Linked DNA regions of Homo sapiens. The protein of the gene in region 4 interacts with the protein of the main gene of each other region in a pairwise test. Each region holds a gene or a part of one and is shown on either strand. Other genes may lie near its edges. The genes, in order: PMP22, VAPA, SEC22A and OPRM1.

What was found.
Region 1: the proteins of OPRM1 (region 4) and PMP22 interact in binary tests that used the Homo sapiens proteins (3 or more experiments, as listed by UniProt).
Region 2: the proteins of OPRM1 (region 4) and VAPA interact in binary tests that used the Homo sapiens proteins (3 or more experiments, as listed by UniProt).
Region 3: the proteins of OPRM1 (region 4) and SEC22A interact in binary tests that used the Homo sapiens proteins (3 or more experiments, as listed by UniProt).

What each region holds. Positions count from the first base shown.
Region 1 is NC_000017.11:15,262,327-15,269,716, forward strand, and holds the start of PMP22 (peripheral myelin protein 22), read right to left. Parts: upstream 3,001-7,390; 5' UTR 2,828-3,000; intron 227-2,827; exon of another isoform or gene 99-226; intron 1-98. UniProt on the Homo sapiens protein: Might be involved in growth regulation, and in myelinization in the peripheral nervous system.
Region 2 is NC_000018.10:9,910,086-9,917,038, reverse strand, and holds the start of VAPA (vesicle-associated membrane protein-associated protein A), read right to left. Parts: upstream 3,024-6,953; 5' UTR 2,783-3,023; coding exon 2,704-2,782; intron 2,436-2,703; exon of another isoform or gene 1,974-2,435; intron 1-1,973. UniProt on the Homo sapiens protein: Endoplasmic reticulum (ER)-anchored protein that mediates the formation of contact sites between the ER and endosomes via interaction with FFAT motif-containing proteins such as STARD3 or WDR44.
Region 3 is NC_000003.12:123,204,942-123,211,967, forward strand, and holds part of SEC22A (vesicle-trafficking protein SEC22a), read left to right. Parts: intron 1-1,359; exon of another isoform or gene 1,360-2,166; intron 2,167-3,879; exon of another isoform or gene 3,880-3,996; intron 3,997-4,257; 5' UTR 4,258-4,276; coding exon 4,277-4,458; intron 4,459-7,026. UniProt on the Homo sapiens protein: May be involved in vesicle transport between the ER and the Golgi complex.
Region 4 is NC_000006.12:154,084,231-154,091,256, reverse strand, and holds part of OPRM1 (mu-type opioid receptor), read right to left. Parts: intron 4,751-7,026; exon of another isoform or gene 3,453-4,750; intron 1,496-3,452; exon of another isoform or gene 1,432-1,495; coding exon 1,079-1,431; intron 306-1,078; coding exon 1-305. UniProt on the Homo sapiens protein: Receptor for endogenous opioids such as beta-endorphin and endomorphin. Receptor for natural and synthetic opioids including morphine, heroin, DAMGO, fentanyl, etorphine, buprenorphin and methadone.

The DNA.
Region 1 (7,390 bases), on a different chromosome or scaffold from region 4:
CTGGCCAAAGCCCCGCGCCTGCGCTGCGCTTTCTGGCACCCTCACTGGAAGATGCCCACATTTCTCCTCCATCTCCTTCACTCTCCCCACCAAATCACTTACAGCCCAAAGGAACAGCTGTCCCGATCCTCAGGGTGGCCTCAAACACAAACTCGGGTGCGTTGGCTCCGCTGCTGGCGCCGCCAAAGCTGCGCTGCGGGGCTGCGCGCGCGCGAAGCAAGGGGGCAGTGGGAGGCTCCTGGCGTTCCCCTTTAACGGGAACAACGCCCTGTTTGCGTCGCTGCAGTAGGGTGTGTCCCTGGGTCAGCGTGTGCGGGAGGGCGGGACTCAGGGAGGAGAGGGGGCAGGAGAGAGGGAGGGCAGGAGACAGTCACTTGGCCTTAAATGCGCCTCAAGAAAAAGTCGGTCCCTGCAAAACCGCGGCGACTTTTACTCGAAACCAGAGGCGGCTGAGCTTTCTCACCTCCCACCTCCCTTCTCCCCTGGCCCCGTGGAGACCTAGTGTTGACCGAGAAACTGGCTCCTCAGCCCACTCTGGGAAGACCCAGCCAAATGTAGCTCAGCGGATGCCCAGGGCTGGGCTTCTGGGCCCGCCGACGCCGACCGCGCCCGCGCGGGGCTGAGGCTGGATTCCTTTCCCACTAATAGAGGGCAGCGGGCGCTTGAGCGCTGGAAGAAGTCCCTCTCCTCTCGGGTCCTGGAGCCCCTGCCCTGTCCTGGCGTCTTAGCCGGACACACCTGCCCCGCGCCGGTCCCCGCTATTACTGTCTGCACCTACGAAGCATGCCAGCTTCCTAGGATTGGCGGGGATTGATCTAGCGGGCTCCTCTTGGGTGCGAATTAGGGGAAGAAAAGTCCGGCCGACTACTGGATAGCATGGTCTGGGATTGGGCTCCTCCTAGCCTAGGCAAAACCAGACTACCACCGAATAAGCTCTAGGCAAAGTGTTCCTGCAGCAGTCGGGCTTGGCTGTCAGCCTTGGCTGGAGTCCTGGCCATGGGGTTTGGCGGGCGGGTGCGAGGTGGCCATTTGAGGTGGGGTTGGAGCAGCCAAGGAAATCAGCTGATTCATAGCCTCCTAACGTGGCCCGCCCAGCGTTACAGGGAGAGAGGCTAGCCCCCTTCAGTCTCGGCTTGGCAGAGGCGCGCCCAACTGAGACTCCCGTGCGCAGGCCAGCCTTGAGGCACGGGACAGGGAGCAGGAATGTGGATGTTAAAGGTTTCTGCCTGAAAATGCAGCAGTTCACGCACGCGCGCGCACACACACACACACACACACTTCCCTACCTCTAGTGTACTGTGTCATAGAAGCTCATCACTCTCAATGATTCAAATAATTCTATATTATTTTACGATTTGAAAGGAGCTGCTATTTTAGCTAATTGTATATTCTTACGGTAAGTAAAAATAAATTTGAAAAAGATCTTCAAACAATGATCTTTTTAAAACTATCGTGTTATCAGATTAAAATGAAGTGTACTTGTAAACACTGCATTTACAGTGCCCGTTATATGCCAAGCACTTTGCCTGGACTTTATATGCATGGTCTGTGAGAGGCAGTATGGTGCAGTGGTTAGGCACTCTGGCTCTGGGCTCCAACAAACCTAATCACCCTGCTTACTTTTGTTGTGAATTTGGGCAATTTCTCAAGTTCACTGAGCTTCAGTTTTCTCAGGTGCAAAAGGAAATAGTAATGCCTGCTTTAAAGGTTTATGGTGGTGATTGAAGGAGACAATATGTACAAAGCAGTTAACATCGTGTCTGCAACATAATAAGGGCCCAGTGCCCAAATTGCCACCACTATTATTATATCACATTTAACTCTCACATCAACCTTTCAGGGAAGACCTGACCACCTCTGCACTAAAGTAGCTTGTAACTCTGATAGGTAGGTAGGTAGGTAGGTAGATAGATAGATAGATAGATAGATATAGATAGATAGATAAAGATTTATAAATGAAAGTGCATATGCAAGTAGAAAAAAAAGTCTAAAGACATGGCAGTGTTTTCTTTCCTCCACAGGTCATTTTATAAGTTAGATTTGCTCTAGAAATTATTACTTTGTTTTATGCCATTTGGACATTTATTTATTTAACCAACACTTATGTGATCACAACATACTCAGGACTGTTCTAAGTAAGCACTTTAGAAATATGAGCATATCTAACTCAGGGTTTTCTTTCCCTTCCTTTGTGATTTTCAAATAAACTTTTTAATAAAGTCTAATACACATACAGAAAAGTGCATATATTGGGTGCTACAGCTCGCTTCTTCCTTTCTTTTGAACCCAATAGTTTAATCAATAACCACCCAGGTCACAGCCACACCATATACTGCCAGACAGGTAAACCCAACCCATCTGTCCCTCACTGCCTCTGGCCTCCTGCCTGGTTCTCAATGGTGGCAGAGGAAGTGCTACTCAGTGCCTGCTGACCAGGCTTGCCACACCCAGAGCCCGGCTGGCCAAGGCTCTGCCACAGGTGGCAGCTTCTCCCTAACCTGCTTACCAAGGCCACCTGCCAGCTGTGTGTGCACAGCTATTTTCCATGGGGGAAAAAGCATCTAGATTCCTTTCTTCCTTTCAATCTGGATGCATTAGGGTTTCTAGATGCTCTCAGATGGCCCCCCACCTCCCCAGCCAGAGTATATATCCACCTTTTAACCAAGGATATAAAAAGCCCTCTGAATCTCCAGTCAATTCCAACACAAATGCACCATCTCTCCTGCAATCCTTTTCATTTGCGGCTTGCAGGGGGTGGGAAATTAGGCAATTCTTGTAAAGCATAGGCACACATCACCCAGAGGCACAGTTTGCCAATAAAACTCACCCGGCCAAACAGCGTAACCCCTTCTTCCAAGCAGATTTCTTTGCAGCCAAATGCAAGGGATGTTAAGGCAAGACCCTCCCCACAGGGCAGTCAGAGACCCGCAGCCGACAGACTAAGCCTGCAGCTTCCAACCAGGCTCCCCGAGATGTTCCCTGGTGGTGCTCCCTGTAACTGAAGCCAGACCAGGCGTCTTTCCAGTTTATTCAGGGGCTGGTCCAATGCTGGGATATGTCATGGTGGCCTGAGAGGTTCTCAGCCTCTATTATTTAAAGAGACAGTGTCCAACTTTGTTTGCTTTCCAGAATACAATAATCCCAAGAGGCCCTGCAGGGCATGGAGAAACTGGAATCAGAAGGGAGAAGAGCTTTGAGTATGCCTGAAGCCTGTGATGCCAAGACTGTTCTCTCTGGAAGTGCCAACCTGTGTAATAGCCAAGAGGTCCCACTGGCTCCCCTCCCCTCCCAGTGAATTCTGCAGAGATTAAATATACTGTGGGAAGGATCTGTGTCTACAGTGTTACATACGTGCAGGTAAGTTTTATTTTAAATAAACTTCCTTTTAAGGAGCCCAAACATTGCACAGCTAATCTCTCACAGCATCACAGCAGTGAGCCAAATGTCTCAAGAGTCACCAAATCAAGCCTCCTTTGTTCCAACCCCTGGTTGGAAGGACTCCCTGTTACCTGCCTTGTCTGCCTAGACCCCATCGCAAATGATCACATGTGTTGTACATTAGAATAAAACTTAGGGAAATGTGTTCTTCCGACTCTGTCTTTAATGTGCCCGAATCAAGCTGACCTTCATGAGATAATTCAATGCAAGTAAACGAACCTCTATTGAAAACTATTGAAAACTTTCTAACCTGTCAGGCAGAATAGGCTGGAAGAGCAATTGGAAATTCTTGGAGAGGGAAGTAAAGGAAGTTATGGCATATTTAGGTTCTTTGCAGCGTACCACTCCAGCTCCCAGAGAGTCCTCCATCCCTTGAACCGCTTCTAGCTGCAAACTCTGACACAAGAGGACTGGTTTCATTGCATGAGTTTCCTGGAATTCTGGCACTTGGGGCATAAGACTTCCTCTTGTGTTAGGGATCCCCAGTCTGGAGAGACCTGCAGAATTTGGAGGAGTCCCTCCCTGTCACACACTTTACGTTTGATTGGACTCTCCAGTCACAAGGGCCTCTCAATGGCCCTCTCCCCTGTTCTGCCCACAGCCAGCATCTGCTCACAGCCAGCATCACAGCCAGTGCCAATAAAATAGTTTCACCTTTCTCTCTTTGCTGAAATCATTTTTATTTTTCACAGCAGTGGTTCTTTAGAATCACTCAAGAGCTTTGCAAATGACCTAGCCTGGGCCATGGTCAGAGAAGCTGACTCAGGTGTTTTGGGATGGGGCTCAGGTATGGGTAATTTCCAGTGTCTTTCTCCCCGCTGGATGTTTCGTTGTCCAGCCAGGTTGTCATGTGGAGTTAGATTGTCGCTGATTTCCTTCCAGCTCCCTTCTGTTGTGGAACCCAAATGGAGATGAGGTACAGTGTGGGCTGCTGCAGTATTATGCAAGTTATAAGTCTGTTCTGCCAGGCAAAACGGTGTGTGTGTGTGCGCGTGTATCTGTGTGTGTGTGTGTGCGCGTGTGCGTGTGTGTGACAGAGAGAGAGAGAGAGGAGCCTCCCTCAGTCCTCCTCTGACATGGTCTGTACGGGGACTGGGAACAGTGAGCATGGTTTTTGCAGCCTCTCCAGACAGTCTTTTCCTGGGTACTGCCATGATCAGCTCCAAAGGCTACACGACAGAGGCTGCTGTCCGTCAGGCCAGGATCAAGCCTGAAGACACGTAAGATTATTTCTGATCTAAGAGCTAAAGATTCAGAGGAAAAGGGGTAGGGCCTGGTGAGTGTGGGGCATGGCTTCTGGCCAGATAGGAGCAGTCTGATTAGCCCTCCCTCTCTCCTTCCATGAGCTCCACATTCTGAGACCTGCTCTCTTGGCCTCACGTCTCTTTTGCCCAGGTCCTCCATCTCCAGCAGCCAAACCCCGAAGTCCCTGTTGGCTGTCAGCAGTAGAGCTGTTCACTGTTGTGTGCCACTGGCCCTGTCTACCAGATGCCAACACACTTGTCTTTACCCATCTGGGCCAGACTCTCTTCCCTTCCCAGAGTCAGGTGAGGAAAACTCCTTCCTCGTCTCCCATTTCCAATAACCTTTTCTCAGCCAAATGGGACCCCTATCCCATGCATCTGTGTTGAGCAATGTCTCTGCAAAGCTGTAGGCTATATCCCACTGAGCCTCTTGCAAAATAAACACATAGAATAGTCACCAAATAACATTTATTATTATTTGCTATCCTCCCTTCCATTTACAGATAGGAAAAATGAGAATCGGGATTCTCTGAGGAAACACAGTTGAGTCAATGAGACTGGCTATTTCTAGCACCTGAGCTGTTCTGCTACACCACGCTCCATCGGCTCAGTAGCATCAGTTATCCGCAAGTCCTTGATAATGATGATAATAGGTTATATTTACTTCGTGTTTAGCATATGCCAGGCACCATCTTGAATATTTTATATGCATCAAATCACTTAATCCTCACAACCGTATGAAATAGGCACCCCATCATCCTCTTTTAGAAGAGGGAGAAACTGAGGCACAGCGAGATGTTCAGTCACTTTCTCAAGACACACTGCAAAGAAATGACAGAGGCTGGATTCCAACCAGGCATTCTGGCTACAGATCCCGTACTCACAGCCTGGACTATCTCACATTCTACCGTGCCCCTAATTGTGCCCAGCACGTTCCTAGCATATCTTCTCATCATGCTTCCATAGACACTATCATTTAATGTCCTATTTGTATGAAAGATATTCTCACATTATACATATTTATGCATTCACGTTTCTTTTTCCATTAAAAAGCAAGAACATATCCTAAGACATCCATTTTTTTTTCAGCACCAGTCACATTTAGTACAGCTTTCAAGAATCCTGTCTCATCCTGCCAACAAGGCTGTGTGCTCCTCCGAGGACATTTGCATTCCATATGTCTGTATAGCATAAGCACTGGCAGAATCCTGCCTGTAGGTGAGATTTTAATTTCATAAGAATGAAATGTTGTCCATGACAGTGGAATCCCAGCAGACTCTTGAAGAGGGAGGAAACCCTTCCGCACTTTATAGCTAATAAAATGCTGTTAACATATGGCAGTATCTTATTTAAGAGGAATCATTATAATCATTTTCTATGTGAAGAAACTGAGGCTTGGAAAATTTACAGTGTTTCCTCCAGGGACTAGCTAGTGAATGCCAGGGCTGGGGCTTAAAAAAGTCCATTCCTCTGACTCCCAAACCTGTAATTTTTTCACTGTGCAGGCTCCCCAGAGAGAAAACCAGAGGCAAGTCTGAATTTGGTGTTTGTCCAGGTGATGAAGTTGTTGTTGCAGCATCTATCCCACCAGGTGCTCAGTCAATATCTGAAAAGTGTTTACACTAAGAATGAAGTCTTTCCTGTGTCCTCATAGCCAGCAGCCTGTGTGGGAGTTCTTGGCCAGCCCTGGACACAGCTGGCCTGGAAGGGTCCTCAAAAGTCAGTCCTGCCTCATCTAGACTCAGCTAGACTGTTTTGATGTCGAGTGAGAGCAGCTTGTTGAAAGAACAAGCAAGGCAGGGAAAGAAGGCAGAGGGGAAGGAAGGAAGGAAGGAAGGAAAGAGGGAGGGAGGGAGGAAGGAAGGAAGGAAGGAAAGATGGAAGGAGAGAGGGAGGGAGGGAGATATAGATAGGAAGAGGGGAGGGAAGAGAAGGAGAAGGGAGAAGAAAAGGAACAGAAGGAGCCAGTTTGACTTCTGTGACAGAATCTTCTACAAATAAGCAAGTTTGAAATTATGACAGGTCCCAATCCCTAGAAGATATTCTTTATGAACAACACAGACGCAGTCAGAAAGCAACATAAAGACACACACAAAAAAAAACTCACATTGGCACAGGACTGTTCCCTAAATGACATCTTTAAAATATAGAAAGGTATCTTGGAGTAAATTGTATATTAACTCCTTCACCTGTGGGAGAGAGAAGTCACAGAATTATTATGTTGTGGCAGTGGGACCAGACCAAGTACAAAGGATTCTCTGTTCACAAATGCATTGTTGCTTAGGAAAGCCAGATTCCACAGATGCAAGTGGAGGGGGGAAAGCAGTCTTTTCTCTGACATCTCATGAGTTAGCAGCTAGAGGATTGGGGAGCAATTTAAGCAAGAGTCAGAAATGGATGTGTACTTGGGATTGCAAACTCTAAAACTTTTCTAAGACTGTTTACTCCTAAGTGAAAATGCTTCTGCTCCAGTAGGGCATAGGTTCAAATAAAATGGGGAAGCAGAGCAATCTTGCCACACGGGAATGGACGGAATGGGGAGGAATGCAGGGATTTTCTAGGCCACTGCAGACCAGGCATAGAAATGTCGAGAAAAGCAGCCTTGGCTTGATGTGAGAGATTGTCCTTATTGAGAGAGGTGCACAGGAAGGCCCATGTAACCCAAGGAAATGCCTGCTTCAGGCAGTCGAAGCCACACCAAGAAATGG
Region 2 (6,953 bases), on a different chromosome or scaffold from region 4:
AACTTTTTTTTAAATACTGAGGTATACAGAAAAATGTACTGAAATAGTTGGTGTCTGCTTTTGCAAAATTGTGCAACATACTGTTAATTCATCTTCAAGATGCTTGTTAGGTGTATAAAAGAAAAACCATCCAATCTCAGAATGATTACCTGAGTCACTCCTGGAGAAACCATCTCAAACTCAGAATCAATAACTAAAATAAACCTACTAGAAGATGACAAAGAATTTTGCAAAACTGTCTTCTAAAAGTCCTTCACTTAGAAAGTTTTGAATGACTTAGGGTAAGTCAGTTAAATGATTTTTTTCTATCATAAACTAAGCCCAAGTAGACTGTACATTCTAAATGAATCTCCTCAGTGTTGAACTGTGCATTTAAATACACAAAGGTTTCCATCAAAGCCAACAATTTACCTTTGACTAAAACGATAATATTAAGGAATCAAACACCAAATGTCACCTCCCAATCCTCCCCATCATCTCCATCTTTAAACTGAAACACACAACAAACTATTGGGCATTTAAGTACCAGGCATTCTCTCACAGCAGTGTGTTTACTCAACCACTCTCTTGGCCTAAACCTCCCCTGAAATGAAAAACAAGCCTTTTCCTTAAATGCTTCCTAAGGGAGGGATGGGGCACATAGAGAAAGGGCTTCTTTCCTCAGACACGGTTGTGTCTCTGTTATACCATCTACACACCTTTTCTGCTTCCCTGGCTAGTCTTATTTTTACTGGCAACACAAAAACAATGAGTTCTATAATCATAGCTGTAATTCTCCAACACCCCCAAAAAAGGAAATATATGAGTAAGTCACTGTGTAGGGCTTTTGCTTGTTTTTTAAACTTGCTTCTCCACTATTATTACTCCCTTACTATAGCAACATAACAACTTCCCTAAGGAGAAAACTTCAAACTCTGTGGACATTTCCTGGCCTAAAACTGGTTGTAAAGGCTTATAAATCCCTAATGGCAATTTACACATAGTTATCCAGTAGAGGAAATGTTCACTGTAAACACAGCCAATCAAAAGATAAAAACGAAATATTAAAAAAAAACACACCATACAGATTTACATTAAATTATCTCAAGATAATGGCTGAGTCAGGACTCTTCATAATTCCTCAAAGGTTTTCCCCCAGCTACAACTACGTAAAAATCACACAACTTACATAAACTTGCAATAAAATACATTCACTGCACCTTAAAACCAAATCCTTACCCAACAAGTAGCTCACTTACACTTCTATTCAAAGAAATTTGTAAACGCACTAAAAAGCTTGCAATGTAGTTATGCAATATTAATCTCATAATTCCAGAATATATTTTAAATTCCTAAACCTGAAGTTTTTCCTATGGAAAACAATGTAGTTGGCTTTCTCTTGGACTCAGCCTTACACAACAATAAAGGATTTAATTTTTTCTTTTAGCACTAGAATTGCTATACACCTCACAAAAATTGTTCTCATTCAACAATTGAAATACAAGACATAGACTTCCAAAACGGGACTCACTTTACACTTAACTAAAGATAGGAAGGAACCTACTTTCTATTAGATGTTCACACTCTTTCAGTATTCCTTAAAAACAAAGAAAAAAAATAAAAATCTGTACATTTTAACTCTCTTTCCTAAAGTACACTACATATTGACAAGGAAACCGACCAAAAGCCCCTGGGATTCTTCCAGGATCACCAAGTCAGACTAAAAAACTTATCACAGGCAGTACTACAAAAACCTACAAAGTTCCAGAGCTGGGTGACACCTTATCAGCCTTCTCAGGATCTGTCGGAAACCGCAAACGTAAAAGCAAAAAAGTCACACGCACTGAAGGTTTCTCAGCAGAGGAGCTCAACTAAAGGGCTAAATAAAAGCACGCGGGTGGCACACTGAAATGTCGTAGAAGGCAGGAAGCCCCGCTACTATGAACCTACAACTCTCCGTTTGCGGCTGACGCATCGCTCCTGCCCGCACGCACCTGGGTCCGTGCCAACAGCACCGGGCAGCCCTCGCCAGGCACCTCCAAGGACTCTCCACCTCCCCGGCGCGTCCTACACCTGACGGCCGAGTTCTAAACCTGGCGGAAAGGTGACAAGCGACGCCCTCCGCGGAACCCGAGGGCCGGCTGCAGCGAGCTCTCCCCGGGCCGGGGCAGGGGTCGGGGGGCGGCTCTCACTCCCAAGGGGTCCCGCGCCGTGCCCTAGCCTCCCCGCGCCGCTGACAGCCGGGAGCGGGCGACAGACGCAGCTTGCGCCACCTCCAGAGCCCACTCCCCGCCGCAGCCCAGAGCGCACGCCCTCGGGTGCCCAGCCGCCCACGCCCCGCCGAAGCACGCCGTCGGCCTCTGGGGCCAAGGACGCGGGCCCAGGCGGACCGCGGCGCGGGCGGGACCGGACGCCCAGGAGGCGCCCCCGCGGGACCGCAAGATGGCGGCGGCGGCGGCGCCAGGGCCGGGCTCCCCTCCGCCTCGCCCCGGCCGGCGCGCGCACCGCAGCGAGGGCGGGCGGGAGGGGATGAAGCGGGCCGGAGCAAGGGGCAGGCCGGCCGAGGTGGCGGCAAGAAAGCAGCCGGGAAAGGGAAGGCGCCGGGGCGTGGGGGAGGGGGCGCTCCCTCGGGCCAGGGCCGCGGACGTGCCCTCCGCGCCCCCCCGCCGACAGCCAGCGGTCCGCGCGCCCCACCCCACCCGGGGGTGTCCCCGTTCTGCCTACCTTTGAATTTGAGGTCTGTGGGCGGATCGAGGACCAGGATCTGCTCGTGCTTCGCCATGGCCCCTGAGGCGGACGCCATCGGAGAGACAGCGCAGAGCGGGGGCGCGCCCGCGGCGGCGGTTTGCTGACTGGGGGCGGGGGACGACGGCGGCGACGGCTCGGCCGAGCTCTAGGACGAGGCCAGGCTCGCGGCTCCCGAGCCCTAACGCCTGCCGCTGTGTCACCGGTTCGGTGGGCCACCCGCTGGGTCAGCAGCTCCGGGTCCCACAACTGACTCAACCCCACACCAGCCGCCACGGCCACGCGCACTTGCGAGCCTCGGCGACCCACGTGACGGCCTCTGCGTGCCTACGTGCGCGCCCCCGGCCGGGAGCTTCTAGCGCTTGTCCCGCCCTCCAGGCCGGCCTAGCGCGGCGCGGGGCTGCTGCGCCTGCGCGCTCGCGGCTTGCCGCGGCCCGGAGCGCAGCCCAGCTGTCAAGGGAACGGGTGTGGAAGGAGGCGGGGCAAAGGTCCGCGGGACCGACGCGATGCGCAGCGCAGGGCTGGAAGCGCAGTCCTCTGTCACCTTGAGCTCCGAGTACGGAACTAGAGAAACTGCTCTGGCAGCGCATCACACTCTTCCAAGTGGGAATGCCCAGTGGAAGGGACAAGTAGTAGTAGGGAAGCGCCCACTCACTACAACTCCCGGCATGCCCCCTGCGGGGCGGGGCCTTCGCCGAGGGCCTGGCCCTTTGCGGCCCTGCGCGGTGCTTGCTGGGAACTGTAGTAACGGCTGTTTGAGGGTGGAAAGGAGAGCTAGGTCTGTTGGAGGCAATGGGGTGGGGTTCGCGGACGCTAATTTTGGCTCTCAGAGCGCGTCTAGTTTGCGCTAAAAAAGAAAAAACTTGAAGACTGAAACGAGGCCCCAATGTTAGAAATATATTAATAAAATCTGCCCTGTGGAGAACAGGCGTGGGGGGATGTGTCCGTTTGCTCTAATTCTATCCAGTCCTCTGTTGGCAGGGCTGCATTCCCCGTGGTATCCAATTCAGCCTCTCCTGCTTCCTGAGTTCTCTCCAGTGATGCAAAATCAGATAAGGAAACACACCTCGTCTAGGAAGCAAGGGGAAATATGACAAAGCACACAGAAACTAGAAATAAAAGTCAAAAATCTACACCATCGAACCCAAATAATCTTCTTCAGTTTTAATGATGGACCCAAACCAAAACAGTTCTCACGTTCACATGTTAGAAACTAACTCCATCTGCATCACTTACGATAGGCTGTAGTAAACTGAACCAAATAAGAAAAATCCCAGCAGCAAACTTGCTGACAAAACTTTAGCCGATTGCCAGGGTAGTCCGGTACAGGAACGTCAAATGAAACCAATGTGCTGTAAATAAACCTTTATTGTATTTTGTGATACGGTTTGAATTTAAATCCCTAGGTAGCGCCACGAAACAAAAGACATATTGATGCTACTGCCATGGAGCAGCACAGTTTGTCTAGAAAATAAACGAGACGAAACAGCAGTCTAGAAGTAGGCACCAAATCCAAGTTTTCATGTGCGATCCAGGTATTAGGGTCCATCCAGGAACAGCCTGCTGGAATTGCTAGCCTGGCATTCACAGAAGATTGTGCCACCCACGAGGAATGTGTTTTCAGCCCTGAAATTCCTGGGAGTGAGAGGTGAAGCCAGCTGGATTTCTGGGTTGGGTGGGGACTTGGAGAACTTTTCTTACAAGAGGATTGTAAAATGCACCAATCAGCACTCTGTAGCTAGCTAGAGTTTTGTAAAATGCACCAATCAGTGCTCTGTAAAAACGCACCTATCAGCACTCTGTAGGTAGCTAGAGGTTTGTAAAATGGACCAATCAGCACTCTGTAAAATGGACCAATCAGCAGGGCATGGGCAGGGACAAATAAGCCAATAAAAACTGGCCACCCCAGCCTGCAGGGGCAGCCTGCTTGGGTCCTTTTCCACATTGTGGAAGCTTTGTTCTTTTGCTCTTCACAATAAATCTTGCTGCTGCTCAGTCTTTGGGTTTGTGCCATCATTTCTTTCTTTCTTTTTTTTTTTTTTTTTTTTTGAGAGGGAGTCTCGCTCTGTCCCCCAGGCTAGAGTGCAGTGGCGTGATCTCAGCTCACTGCAAGCTCCGCCTCCCAGGTTCACGCCATTCTCCTGCCTCAGCCACCTGAGTAGCTGGGACTACAGGCGCCTGTCTCCATGCCCAGCTAATTTTTTTATATTTTTAGTAGAGGTGGGGTTTCACCGTGTTAACCAGGATGGTCTCGATCTCCTGACCTCATGATTCACCCGCCTTGGCCTCCCAAAGTGCTGGGATTACAGGACTGACCTAGTGATCCACCCGCCTTGGCCTCCCAAAGTGTTGGGATTACAGGCATGAGCCACCACGCCTGGCCTGGGTTTGTGCCATCTTTAAGAGCTGTAACATTCACCGTGAAGGTCCGGGGCTTCATTTTTGAAGTCAGCAAGACCAGGAACCCACTGGAAGGAATCAACTCCGGATGCAGGAGGATAGAGTGCTTAAGTAGTTTGAAGCATATTCTAAATTTACCTTTACTGTGATTTCTTCCTATTCACAAAATTTATTTTGAGATGTCAATTATCATTAAGGTAGAATACAAAAAAAATTGTTTATTAAAATGGGGGTTCAAGTTTTGTTTTTGTTTAAGAAAAAAAAAAAGCTAAAAGTGACAATCAGTCCAAAGGATAGTGTCCCACATAGGTTTAGTTGTGAATTGACAACCCTAAAGGCCCTCACAAACTCCAGTTTTTTGCCGGCCTAAGAACTCTCTTCCATGGGCCAGCTAGCCTAGGCTGATCCAGTCCCTCCATAGCAGGAAGCACACTTCTCTTACCGGAAACCATTTGGGAAGCCCCCATGTGCAAATAGTCAACTAGCAGAATAGCATGCGGAGGAAATTCCCAGTAACTCCCCTATGGGAGGATGAATGATCGCCCATTCACTATAGATTTAATGGGAAGCCTGAATTGGATGTATTCTAGTTTCCCAGTCTATATTATTAAGAAATCTCTGCCCATTTGAGTCATCTGTCGTTGGAATCAACTGTTTTTTCACTTCTCAATATTGCTTCAAAAATCATGTAGGTATAGTCTTAAAACATATAAGAATTTAAAATTCTAATATTCTAAGAATATGTGAAACATCTTGGGATTAATCCCCTATTCGTATTTTAGAGCATTAGATTAATAATCACTGAGTCATTTTGAATCTTCTACTTCACATCGAATTGTGCACTATTTAAGTGGTTTGTGCTTTGGTATTTATTAGTACTTTTCTTCCAGCACTACAAACTTTACAAACATCATCACACCCTACTCAGAACAACTTCATGACAGTTGGCAAGTGCCGCTTTTGTTGTTAAATGTGGAAATGAAAACACAGATGACAGCATCTCATCTTAGTAATAGAGCTCAGCTATGGGCAGGGGACATTGCCCAATGTTCTATTCTGTGCATTTTTGCTCTTCCCAAAGCCGCAATAAAATGACAACCCACAATTTAAAATGTCATTGACTTCTCTATTGTTTAACATTTAAGCTAGGAATAATGAACCATGTGACCTATGTTCATTTTGTTTGCTCTTTTTAGATTGGCTAATGCAGCACAGAAAGGCCTTAAAGTATTAGCAAATATATACACTCCAGCATATCAAGCAACCAAATTTTCATGAGTCTAAGAAGTACAAAGGCTTTGAATATTATTTCAACCTATTTGAATCACTAATAGTATTCACCTTTGGACAAGTTCTCTCTTATGGACTTGGCAAAGATTTTTTTTTGTTTTCAGTACGGATAGTATCAAAGTACTTATACCCCTCTACTTCTCCATAGTTAAACATGTTAAACTTTACAGTAGAGGTGCTCTATAATTATGAATTTGTTTATGAGCAATTCTCTGAGTTATTGACTTCAGTGAACATTTAAACAGGCATGCTTTCCATAAATATTGAGGCAGTAAAGTAAAATACAGGCTTTGAATCTAGACTGCTAGGTTCAAGTTCCATTTTCCACTGTGTGATCTTTGCAGCTCACTCCACCTCTCTGTGCCTGTTTTACATCTGTAAAATGAGAAGAAGAAGAATACCTACATTCTGGGTTTGTTACCAGGATTCAATGAGTTCCTACACATGAAGAGCTTATAATAGTGCCTGATTCCAGCACTGTTACCTTATTAATATTAAATGTTAAATTACTGCTGTGTGCCCAGCACTGTGGCAGGTAC
Region 3 (7,026 bases), on a different chromosome or scaffold from region 4:
TTTCCCAACCACAACCCTCCTTAAGACCTTAAAGATACTTTAACCTAGCTTAGGCCTGACATGGACAGATTTCCTTTTCTGCTAGCACAGTCCAGATAAGATTAGTTTAAAAAAAAACAAACTATATTATGAATCCGTGGTAAAAAGAAAAAAAGTAGGGGTATGTTTATTGAATTGATGGAGAGACAGCTTAGCCTAAGGTGGTTGGAATCTGTCTACAAATTAGTTAAGCCTGACGTTGATCATTGGACATTCATCCCCGTTTGTCAGGCTTAAATTCAAGTGCTTTGGATGCTGAATCAAATTACTGTGGTAGAAAGAGGTTTAATTTTTTCCCTAAGAAAAATCTTATCTATGGATAAGTAGAAACCATTCTCTGACAACCTTGTAATAATTTTGACAGGGAATGTAACTACTGTGTTCTGCTTTTGGTTAAAGGCTAAAGTACATATTAGGAAAATTTGAGGCTGGGCGCAGTGGCTCACACCTGTAATCCCAGCACTTTGTGAGGCCGACGCAGGTGGATCACTTGAGGTCAGAATTTGAGACCAGCCTGGCCAACACAGTTAAGCCCCATCTCTACTAAAAATACAAAAATTAGCCAGGCATGGTGGCGGGCACCTGTAATCCCAGCTACTTGGCAGGATGAGGCAGGGGAATCGCTTGAACCTGGGAGGCAGAGGTTGCAGTGAGCCATTGCACTCCAGCCTGGGCAACAGAGTGAGACCCTGTTTCAAAACAAAACAAAACAAAACAAAAAAACAACAAAAAAAGGAGTATTTGAAATGTAAGTTTGTCCAACTTTAGTTTTCCAGTTAGTGAAGTGGTGGGCAACACACCTGCATTGTTTGCTCTTTTCAACTGAGTTTCTCTAATTGAGGAGTGATGTTTCTTGATGGTAGGACTCTTCATTCCTGCTATCTGGCATAATTCATGGGACACATTAGATATTCAGTAAATGTTTGGTAAACGAATGGAACTTACAAATTGTATTCTTTTTACAGTATGTGTTTTAGAAAGCATGGATCATATATTTATTGATCTGTCCTCCAAGTCACTAAAGAATAACTTTGAAGACTACATGAAATTTGGCAACCTATTAATGAAGTCTATTCATAATATTTCTATTAGGATCCTAGAGAGGCCAGACATAAAATAATACAGTCTACTTTTATTTTACTTTTTGAGACAGGATCTCTCTCATCACCCAGGTTGGACTGCAGTGGCACAATCATAGCTCACCATTGCCTTGAACTCCTGGGCCTGCTTCAGCCTCCCCAAAGCAAGTACTATAGGCGTGTGCCACCATGCCCAGCTGATTTTTAATTTTTTTTATAGAGACAGAGCCTCACCATGTTTCTAGGTTGGTCTTGAACTCCTGGCCTCAAGCAGTGTTGGGATTATGGGTATAAGCCATGGCACCCCATCCAATCTGCTTTTAAATACTAAAATGTGGGTATTTAGAACTGCAAGTTACAACTCACCCTCAAATTAATTCCCAGAATGGTTATTGTGTTGCAGTGTACTTCTGGAAAGACAACAGTTTTATAGTTAAATAATAAACGCTTAAGGGGATAGAGTAAGACATTTTCCTACTTTCTTACACTTAGGCTAAATGTTACAATTGTGATTTAATAATTAAGTAAAACATGGTAAAAAAAAAATTAAAGAGGGGTTTATAGTATAGATATCTCTTCAGGGATCCCAACTTTTTCATGCTACTGCTTTTAGGAGAGAAAAAAACTAGATGAATGGAAAAAAACACCAATTGGGATATGTCACACTGGGACTTCAGTTTGAAGACTCCACTGTAGTAAAAAGACTAATTTGCTTCTGGATATTTTTCTCTTTAAATGAATGGAGAGGCTGGGCGTGGTAGCTCATGCCTGTAATCCTAGTACTTTGGGAGGCTGAGGTGGACAGATCACTTCAGGCCAGGAGTTTGAGACCAGCCTGGCCAACATGGCGAAACCTCATCTCTACTGAAAATACAAAAATGAGCTGGGTGTTGTGGCGCATGCCTGTAATCCTAGCTACTCGCGAGGCTGAGGCATGAGAATTGCTTGAATCTGGGAGGTGGAGGTTGCAGTGAACTGAGATCGCACCACTACACTCGTCTGGGTGACACAGTGAGACCCTGTCTCTGAAGGAGAAAAATATTAAAGGGTAATGACACAGTAACACCTAGAGATTTCTCCTTTTTCCTCATGAAAAGAGGAAAAAGGGATAGTGAACTTAATGCATTAGATTTATTAGTTGGGTTAATTTTTATTGTCAGATCAGTTATCACCATGAATGGGAAGTCATATTTTGACTTCACACAGCAGTGAAAACTATCAGCTCCTGATTTACAAGCTTTGTAACAACTGGTTTTCTGTGGTATTTTTTTTTATATATATTACTCATTTTTTCCTTTTTGGAATGAGATAATATTGACCTAGATTAAGTGGGCAGGTAAGGATTAATTTAGTCTCTAAGATACAATATTTTTGGAAAAATGCCTGTGAGATTTTTATCAGATTTTTGAATTTTCACCAGTTGCCTCACCACTAGTGAGGAAGCCTTTAGTGACATTGTGCTTTGATGGCCTGACAGAGAAGAGTTATCACTTAATCTTAGATAGTGAACATGTTTTAATTTAATGTTTTAAAAAGTATGGGCCTTAGACAATAAGCAAATTGTCAAGCCCTATCCCACAGTCAGTGGTTCAGAATTTTGAGGGCAGAGCTCAGAAATCTGCATTTTTAACTAAACTTTCAACTTCTTATGCAAGCTAAAGTTTGAGAGCCACTGTGTATTTTATGAAAGGTTGAGTGACTGTTGACCTGAGTTCCTTCAGACTCAGGCCTGTGAAGTCCTTTCATCTGTTTTTGTAAAGCAAGAAGAGAATCCAATAAAATAGGCCATTAAGATTTACTTTCTGGTAAAAAGATTGAGAACAACATTAAAACCAATATTCCTTTAGCTTTAGGATTTATTTTAAATAATTTTTTTCTGATTATAAAAGTAGTATATGTCTACTGTGAATATTGAGAACATTTAGGAAATTATAAAATAATAATAACCAATAATACCATTTCTTAGAGGTGAGCATATTCTTAATTTGGCATCTTTTTCTGCATCCGTTTTTCAATCCCTTTTTCCTTCTCTTTATCTTCGTCTCTTTATCCTTATGTTTGTGTAAAACAACATTTGCAATTTTTATCCTACTTTTTTCTCCTTAACATGTAAGCATTTTACCACATTATTAAACTTTCTCCACAAACATAACTTTTAGTTGCTGCATTATATTCTGTTATATGAATATACTATAATTTACTTAACCATCACCATTTTATAGGATATTTAGATTGCTTTCAGTTATTTGAGTGGAAGAATGTCTTTCTGTTTAAAATTTTGCCTGGATTTCTGATTATTTTTCTCAAGACAGGTATATATTTAAATTTATTGAGGTTAAAAGGTATGCCTTCAGACTCTTGTTGAAATTGCCAAATCATTTTGAGAACTGTTTGTACCAGTTTTTACTTCCATCTGTACTTATGAGAATGCCAGACAGAAGTATTATTTTTTAAAAAGCTAATGTGGCTGGGTGTGGTGGCTCATGCCTGTAATCCCAGCACTGTGGCAGGCGCCTATAGTCCCAGCCACATCCTATGCTGTGGCATGGGAACCCAGGCTGAGGCATGAGAATTGCTTGAACCCTGGATGGGGGATGTTGCAGTCAGCCAAGATGGCGCCACTGCACTCCAGCCTGGGTGACAGAGCAAGATGCTGTCTCAAAAAAAAAAACAAAAAACAAAAAACAAAAGCTATATGTTAAGTGAAGCATAGTATGTTGTTTTAATTAGTTTTTTGTTTTTTTTTTCCTCCTGAGACGGAGTCTCACTCTGTCGCCCAGGCTGGAGCTCAGTGACGCGATTTCGGCTCACTGCAACCTCTGCCTCCCGGGTTCAAGCAATTCTCCTGCCTCGGCCTCCTGAGTAGCTGGGATTACAGGTGTGCACCACCACGCCTGGCTAATTTTTGTATTTTTAGTAGAGAAGGGGTTTCATCATGTTGGCCAGGCTGGTCTCAAACTCCTGATCTTGTGATCCACCCTCCTCAGCCACCCAAAGTGCTGGGATTACAGGTGTGAGCCACCACACCTGGCCATTTTAATTACTATTCTTATATTACTAGTAAGTTGAACATTTTTACATATGCTTATCAAGTTTGGCTTTAATTTTTATGTAACCCAAATTGTTCATTTTGTTTTAGGTCTTCTCTGTTGGTTGAAATGTCTATGATTTTATCTGCCTCAGTCATTCGTGTCAGAGATGGACTGCCACTTTCTGCTTCTACTGATTATGAACAAAGCACAGGAATGCAGGAGTGCAGAAAGTATTTTAAAATGCTTTCGAGGAAACTTGCTCAACTTCCTGATAGATGTACACTGAAAACTGGACATTATAACATTAAGTAAGACTTCAGTTTGCTTCATTTGACTCATTTGCCCAGTAGTTGTCATTTTAATGAAGTTTAAGTGGTTGCAATAGAAAGGAGTGATTAGGAAAACCTGTTCAAGTCGAGCATCATATTGTTCTGAACTTATACTAAATAGTCATCATGTCAGCAGCAGCCTTTTTGTAGTTTCTTTGTATCTGGCTCTGGGAAATTTTATAGTTGTGCAGATCATAGATATCCCTCTTTTAAGTTGATCACTAAATATTTATTTGCATTCTTACATACCTAGGGTTGTAGTAAGCAAACTATAATTGGAAATAAAAATTTTTTACCTGATATCTGCCCTCAAAGAACTGAAGCAACTTACGTCTAGTGGGAGGGGGTAGCACTTATCACTGAGTCACATACAAATCAAGTAAAACTGGGCAATGGGATAGAGAGTGACTATTTATTGTGGTCAAGACACTCTCTGAGAGGGTGACATTTGAGCAGAGACCTAAAAGATGAGAGAGGAGGTAATTATATGAAGGATGCTGTGGATGAAGAGCAAGGCAGAGGTAGCAGCCAGTGGAGAAGCCCTTTTTTACATGCCAAGAGACAGAAAGAAAACCAGTGATCCTGAAGAATTATGGACAATTAATAGAGTTGCAGAAAGTGAGGCCAGAAAGGTAGGAATGGGGCAAGTTATGTAGTGAGTTTGGAGTCTATTAGTCTGTTTAGTCTAATGCAGTAGGAAGCCATTGGGTAGTTTTAAGCTATAGAGTTACATGATTTCATTTGGCTTAGAGTAGATCATTCTGCCTGCACTGTGAAGAATAAAGGAGGAAGTGGAAGCAGAGAGGTCAGATGGAAGACTCAGAGAAGTTCAGGTGGAGGTGCTGATTGTAACGAGCTAGGGTAGTAATGAATAGAAGTAGTTAGATTGGGGCTATATTTTGGGATTAATACCAGCAAATCTTCCTACTGGATTGAAATAGGATGTGAAGGTAAAAGAAGAATAATCACCTGTAGTTTTTTGGCCTGAGGAACTGGATGAATAATGTAGCTGAAATGAGCAAGAAAGGAGAGGATAAGTGCGTCTCCTTGGTAAAAAGTAAGAGTTCTGTTTGGACATGTTAAATCTGAGATGCCCATTAGACATCCAAGGGGCACTGCTAGGTAAGCAGCTGGATATATGAGTCTGAAGCTTAGTGAAGAGGACAAGTATAGACATTTAGATTTGGAAGTCAGCTTACAGTTTGTGATTAAAACCATGGGAATGGATGAGACCACCTTGGAAAGCTTAGACGTGAAACAATTAGAGAACAATTAATGTCTGATATCAAGCTGGATATTGATTATGCATACAGAAGGAAATAAGGTAAAAACACAGTCCATATAGGATATAATAAGCAGAGGGCTTCGTTGTTGAGATGAGACATGAGCCATGTCCTGAAGAATTAATAAGAGTTGGCTAAGGCAGGGAGGAGGGCATTCCAGGTGTACGGAGGAGAGGCAGAATAAGCAAAGAATGTGACTTAGCATGGTAGGTGTATTAACATGCTTATCCTGGGTCAGTGGATGGTGATTTATGGATAGTTGTGAGACATGCGTGATAATCATTGTGGGGCCAGATCCTGGATCGCCCTGAAAGTTCAGATTGAAGGACGTGACTTTGATGTAATATGTTATAGGAAGCTGTGCTGCAGGTTCAAGGGAAGTGACTTGATAAAAACAATCCTGAGACAGTGGAACTTAGGGTGAGTGGACAGTCCAAGAGGAGAGAGATAAGGCAGAGAGGCCAACTTATTAGGGCCTGAAGTAAGAAAATAAACGTGCAAATGAAAATTAGAACACCAAAAGAACTAGAATGATAATGAGAAATAGTTTGATTGGGGATCACTTTGAAGTTGGATCACTTCAAAAGAAGTGACCAAGCTGGATAGGATGGAATACCAGAGATGAAAAGAAGGAAGGGGCAAAGATGACTGAAGCCTTGGAATTGGACAGAATGTTGGTGTCATTGCCAGAAATGAGATCTTTGGAACAGACTGTTTATGAGGTGTGAGGCAGAAGAGAAAGATAATGAAGCTCCATTTTGATCATTTTTTTAAGACACTGGGGCTTGCTCTGTTACCTAGGCTGGAATGCAGTGGCATGATGACAGCTCACTGAGCCTCAACCTCTTGGACTCAAGTGATCCTCCCACTTCAGCCTCTTGAGTAGCTGGGACTACAGGTGCACACCACCACACCCAGCTAATTTTTTTATTTTTAGTAGGGATGAGGTCTCACCATGTTGCCTAGGTTGACCTCAAACACCTGGGCTCAAGTGATCCTCCTGCTTGGCCTCCCAAAGTACTGGGATTACAGACATGAGCCACTGCACCTGGCCCACTTTAATTATTTAACTTGAGGTTTTAGGCCAAGCACAGTGGCTCACACCTGTAATCTCAGCACTTTGAGAGGCCGAGGCAGGCAGATCACTTGAGCCCAGGAGTTTGAGATCAGCATGGGCAACATGGGGAGACCCTGTCTCTACAAAAAACTAAAAAATTAGCCAGGCGTGACATAGTCCCAGCTACTGTGGCGACATACGTGGGAG
Region 4 (7,026 bases):
CTGGAACGTAGTTTCTGGGATTGTAACCAAGGCTTTAATGATGACGTAAATGTGAATGGGAGTCCAGCAGACGATGAACACAGCCACCACCACCAGCACCATCCTGGTGATCCTTCGAAGATTCCTGTCCTTTTCTTTGGAGCCAGAGAGCATGCGGACACTCTTGAGGCGCAAGATCATCAGTCCATAGCACACGGTAATGATGAGCACTGGCATAATGAAGGCGAAGATGAAAACACAGATCTTCAGCAGGTTTTCCCAGTACCAGGTTGGATGAGAGAATGTTAGTGTACAATCTATGGAACCTAGAAGAAAGGAATTTAAAGGAAAAATTAGCAGCAACATTTAATTATGTCATAAGGTGTTAATACTGCCATTTTGCTCATTCATTTTTAGCCTTGACCAGAGCTAACTTAAGGCTATAAAGAAATTGTGGAAGAAACTCAGTTGTTTGTTACTTTTCAAAGAAAGTTTTACTTCTAATGTTTTTTGTTTTTTTCTAAATTTCCCATTTTGCAGTCCACTTCGATCACATTAAGCTTTCGTTCAGGGAACAAAAATGAACCTCTCAACATGAGCTAGATCCTCCATGAGGTCTATATTGATATAAAAAATGTAATAATTGTCCAAAGTCTCTAGGCGGCTCCAGGTAATGGATGTTTTCACTTCATTTTTTGATGGATTGTTCAATATTCTGATATTAGGTGTAGAAAGATACATTTGCCATGTAGTCAGCCACTTGATAATTTTAAACAAGCCTCAGTGTAATACTCTTTGGGTTTAAGCTCCAATTACTCTTGGGAGAGCTATGTACTAATTTACACACCATTTTTATGAAGTAAATACAGAGAAATCAGAAATAAATAGATTACATTCTCTTTAAAGGATTTAATAGGCCTAAAATTATGAGGAAAATTCCTATTTTTAAGTATTCAAAGGCTTTTTTTGCTAGGAAGAATAATTAAAATTACAATGTGACTAAGACAATGGGGCACTCCATAAATACTGCTTTGCTTATGACATCACCAACATATCAGGCTGTGAACCCTCCTTCCCTCAGGCTGGTAACATCACTCACCTTGCCTGTATTTTGTTGTAGCCATGAACATTACAGGAAGACCAATGGCTGAAGAGAGGATCCAGTTGCAGACATTGATAATTTTGGCATTTCGGGGAGTACGGAAATCTAAGGCCTTGACAGGGTGGCAGACTGCAATGTATCGATCAACACTCATGGTGCAGAGGGTGAATATGCTGGTGAACATGTTATAGTAATCTATGGAGATCACTATCTTGCAAAGGATGGTTCCAAATGGCCATGTTCCCATTAGGTAATTCACACTCTGGAAGGGCAGGGTACTGGTGGCTAAGGCATCTGCCAGAGCAAGGTTGAAAATGTAGATGTTGGTGGCAGTCTTCATCTTGGTGTATCTAGGAGATAAAGGAAGAAGAGTGAGAATCAGTAAAAGACACTAGTGTAAAATATAGGTAAGCTTCCAATAATAAATTTGCATGAATTAGTAGAAAGCTTTTTTGAGATTAGATATAGAATTGTTTTCCAGTATCAGCTTGGCTATTTACAATGATGTCAATGATGTACCTATTGGCTAAATAGCTGCAATAATAGCAACGATGCTGCTTTGTTGAGTTTCTTCCTTTTTTTTTTTTTTTGGATAGGATCTTGCCCTGTTACCCAGGCTGGAGTGTAATGGTATGAACAGAGCTCACTACAGCTTTAACCTCCTGGACTCAAGAGATCCTCTTGCCTCACCTCCTGAATAACTGGGATCCCAGGTGCATGCCACCATACCCTGTTAATTTTAAAAAACTTTTGTAGGGACAGGGTCTTGACATGTTGCTTAGGGTGGTCTTGAACTCTTGGGCTCAAGCAGTCCTCCCTCCTCGGCCTCCCAAAGTGTTTGTGTTACAGGCATGAGACACCACACGCAGTGAGGGTTTTAATTTTTTTTTTTGTAATGTGTCAGTCATTGTGATAGGTCTAATAGAAAGAGGGAGATTCCAGTCAAATAGTAGGGGCAGCGACTGGATAGTAATTCTAAATATAAAAGAGAAAATTTTAGCTATATAAATATAGTTAAAATTATCAAGAAGTATAATTGTGCAAGTGTCTATAGGTATGTACACAAACACATGCACATACAAACACACAGGCGATTATGGGGCACAGAGATGAGGCATCTCACAGAGCATAAGGCAAAGGGAATAGTAGGAGTAAGATGTGGAAGGCATCCTGGAAGTGCAAGTTTAATCTCAAAGCACAAGCAGGATGATTGAGTTAGACACTTGGTAGGAGCAGGTCATTCTAGACAGAGAGGTAACAGAGAGAACCCCAACAAAGATGTAGAGTTGGAATGGCCTGATGTGTGTGTCAAGCACATTCTACCAGGGAATGGCAAGGGATCTGACTGGGGAAGAAGAGAGGCCAGTACATGAAGAACTTGTATGCCATGGTAAGATTAGACTCTATCCAATCCATGATGAGGAACCCAAGTGTGTTTGCTTTGTTTTTATTTTTTAATGCTTTATTGAGGTGGAATTGACCTATAATAAATAACGCATAATTAAAGTATACAATTTGATAAGCTTTGATACGTGTGTACACCTGTGAAACCACCACCATAATTAAGATCAGAGATTGGCAAACTATGGTGTGTAGACCCAATTGGACCGTTGCCTGTTTTATAAATAAATACACCTATTTAAAAACCCATAAGTGTTTTGATGCTACAATGGCAAAGTTCAATAATTGCAACAGAGATCAGATGACATGCAAAGCCTAAGTTATTTACTATCTTGCACTTTACAGAAAAAAATGTCAACCTCTGATGAAGATAATGACATCAATTGCTCCCAAAAGTGTCTTTGTGTAGCTCTTTAATCTTTCCTGTTTGCCCCTCCCTGTCCTCATATCCAACCCTCACTATTCCTCAGGCAATTGCTGATCTTGGTTTGCTTTCTGTTCTTATAGATTAGTTTGCATTTCCTAGAAGATGCAAATAGAATCATTCAGTATGTACTCTTTTTTTGTGCTGCTTCTTTCACTCAGTGTCATTATTTTGAGATTCATCTATGTGGTTGCATATAACAAGAATTAATTCCTTGTTATTGACAAGTAGTATTACTTATGCATTCATCTGTTTTTTTTTTTAATCCATTCACCTATTAATGGGAACTGAGTTGCATACAACTTTTGGATGTTACAAATGAACTGTTACGAACATTCATGTGCAAGTCTTTATATAAACATATGCTTTTCTTCCTCCTGGGTAAGTATCTAGGAGTGTTATATGTTTTCAAGGCCTGCAGAAATTAGAAATATGATAGTAGAATATAAGCAGGTACACTTGCAATAATACATTATATCTGATGGCAGAAGTATACCTTGTAAACATTGGACATCATTTTTTTTTTAACATTCCACATATATTTACCTTAATTTAGTAATAGTACCTCAGTTTCACTCTGGGAACCACTCATTTCCCGTTCTCAGTCCAGGTGCTTTGGGATAGGCTGTATTACCAGTCCAGGGCGTGAAGACGTTTAGTGACCGGGGCCATGGTGAATGGCAAGGATGCTCTCATGTTCCAACCAGAGCCAGTGAGAGTTTATTTTGAGACTTATGGACAAAGAGTGTATTAGTTTTCCTGCAGGACCCACACCTGAGAAGACGCATGGTATGTAGTTGCTGGAGGAGCTTGTCTGAAAATGGACCTAATCCGGAGGATGTGGATTTGAGAGCGTGAGAGAGAACCCCACACCTGAAGCCAGGCCCTCCTTGGGCTTCTGATTTACACGGTGCCATCAATTCCTTTTAAATGTTAGCTTGTGTTTACTGTTTTTCCGTCACACGAGGTTGAGTCTAACTCATTCAGCCCAAGACAGCTGTTGGTTGGAGGCCCTTTGTTTAGGACTGAATTCAGTGTCCAGGAAAGTGTTTTGGTTTCAATAACATCAGGAAAGTGATTTCATAAATCTCCTCAGGGTCAATAGGACAGCTTTGTTACTGAAGCTTTAAAATTCTGATACCTGATCTGGTCTGCAATACTTGCAGAAGCTGCATTACTGCCAGAAAAGCTCCACATTTTCAGACTTGGGGGCTTTTTTTTGGACTTACTTTGGGAGTTTCACTTTCTTAATGGATTTTAAAGAAAAAGATAGAGCCATTTAACTTGAGGAGAGAAAATAATTTGCTTTTAGTTTGGACTTTAAATATGGCAAATATAAAAAGGATAATGTAGACAAATACTCCAAAGTACAAAAACCAACAAAAAAGCAAAATTAAAACTGTGGTTTTAAGATTTAGAATAATTGACCTTGGTGCTCAAGAAGTTGAAACATTTTTTATTTTTTTAATAAGAAGAAGTTTCTCCCCAAAAGAGAAAATAACTTTTGCTAGATTCACCGTTGGTTATAGACCTGCATGATCTAAAGACATGCTTCATTGCATTTGCCACTTTCCTACCCAGCAGACCTTACATTTCGTGGCTTATCTTTAATGGTGTTTTATGTTAAGTAATTGGTTTCTTTACAGTCAGTTTTCTGACTCATCATACTTCCAACCTTTCCTTCAGGCTTATTTTAGCACTAAGTATTTCCAATGTATGTTTATTTTAATTAAAAAAAATCATTTCCTTCTCCAGAGTGAGGTGTTTGTGGAAAAAAAAATTATGTCAGGGTTCAACATGGTGAAAGGAAACGTGGTTATGCATAGTTAATTAGCATGCTAGCCATTCCACAATGTGTATACATTTCAAAACATCATGTTGTATATGGTAAATATACATAATTTTATCATCAATTTACCAAAAAAAAGTGAATATTTATCTATAAAAATTCTTTCAACGGGCATTTTATAGGAATGATGCTGTTTAATTTTTCTCAATTTATTTAAAAAGTCTTCCTCTAAAGATAGCCAGCATTCTTACCCCAGTTACTCATGCTTTGGATCACAGCAACATATAAAAGGGGGCTCAACGATCTTCTAAATATGTGAAAGAAAATTATACAAAGCTAAAGGATTAAGAATTCCAATTGCCTCCAGCATATACCCAAAGGCTTTAATCTGAAGAGATGGTCTAATCAGAAAAGGAGTAATGTGGGCTGGGCCTGGTGGCTCAAGCCTATAATCCCAGCACTTTGGGAGGCTGAGGTGAATGGATCACTTGAGGGCAGGGGAAGGAGACCAGCCTGGTCAACCCTGTCTCTACTAAAATTAGAAAAATTAGCTGGGGGTGGTGGCAGGCACCTGCAATCCCAGCTACTTGGGAGGCTGAGGCAGGAGAATCGTACCACTGCATTCCAGCCTGAGCAACAGAGAGAGACACTGTCTCAAAAAAAAAAAAAAAAAGGGCAAGCTTTCATTCTGTTCTGATGTGGTGGCATGAATGTTGTCCCAGCAAAGTTCAATGAATGCTCAGAGTCACATCATGGGCCTTGCACAGGAGCATAGGACTCAGAGTTAGCAAACTAGCAAAAGAAATGACCTGCAGGAAGAATTATCTTTGCCATTCAGTTTACCTGAGTGGGTCCGAGTAGAACTCCTGGCTATTAAAACACAAGCCTTTTTCCTTACTCCATGCCTACTGCTTTGTACTGTGCTGTGAATGTGTTCTGTGGCAAAATGGGCAAAGAGAGACTCATCTGGACTCACAGGCCATCCTGATATTGACCCTTCCTATGGTAGCCACTGAACTCCATCTTCTGCTCGAAGCAGTGGCCCAAGCTATTTCTTTCTAATTATCCCATTAAAATTTTTGTAGTAGGTATTTCTTTAACTTTGGTCTAGATGATTAAATAGCTCTTTTGTTTTATGAATTCAAATGAATTTACAATGCTATTCGTTTTTGAAAAAAATTGTGTTCTTCTGAGAACCATCGATGTTTGACCCATTAGAGTGATTTTTATGGAACTTCCAGAAGTGTTGGGGAAAAGGCATTGTGAGGCCCATTTGCTGGCAGCTCACCTATTCTTTTATGTTGCATATATGACTTTTGTTTATAGATGTTCTTCCTTTCTTATGGTTATAAAATAATTCTTATTTATCTTTTGACCTATTCTTCACACATTTCTCCAACTATTACTACTTACAAAATGTGATTGCTTTTGACCTATTTGTGTTAAGTGAAGCCAGACTAAATAAATTACCTCTGTACACCTGATGGGTTTTGTAAACTTCTGTTTAGTTTTGTGGTTAATTATTTGAATTGTGGTGATCGTGTCTCAGTTCAGAAATAAAACTGATCAAGAGAGTGAGAGGAGGAAGGACACATTTTAGAATCCAGCATGTGTGTGTGTGTGTGTGTGTGTGTGTGTGTGTGTTTAATTCCACATCATGGCCTTCATATTGCTCAACTACCTTTTTCATAAGTTCACAATAGAGTCAATGGTGATGGACGGAAGAGTTTCATCTCTTTTGGGGCTAATTTTTCTGCCTTTTCATTTTTTTTACCAAGTAGTGTGAAGAAAGATACCTAATTCAGTAAGAATTCAACAAGCCCCTTTTATATGTTCAGCAATGTGCTTGGAAAGATATATTTCTTGCATTTGCCATGACTTTTATGTCCACTTACCCTCACATAGAAATTAACCTTTTTAGTCGAGAAAAAAATCCTCCCTAGAGTGTCATACTTTAATACTCATATTTAATTGGATCAATCCAATGAGATAAAGATACTTTCCTACATTTCAAGTAATTATTTAGGCAAAGAATATGGTCAAATGAGTATCTACCTGAGTTAATTGATCCATTATTATCCATCTATTCCATTCTGATATCCCAGGTGCGTTTTTACTTGTGAGTGTGTGTGTGTGTGTCTGTCTGTCTGTTGGGGGGGGAGGTTCTAAAATAAGAAAAAGCATAATCAAAACTAGTGATTATCCTCTCATTGGCATTAACATGGAGAAAGACTATATATTAGGTTGCTATTTTGTATTATATTCTCCACTAGCTTAGTGAAGGGGAGAATGGAGGACTTCTCACTTTGCTATAAAATGTTGTGAAACATT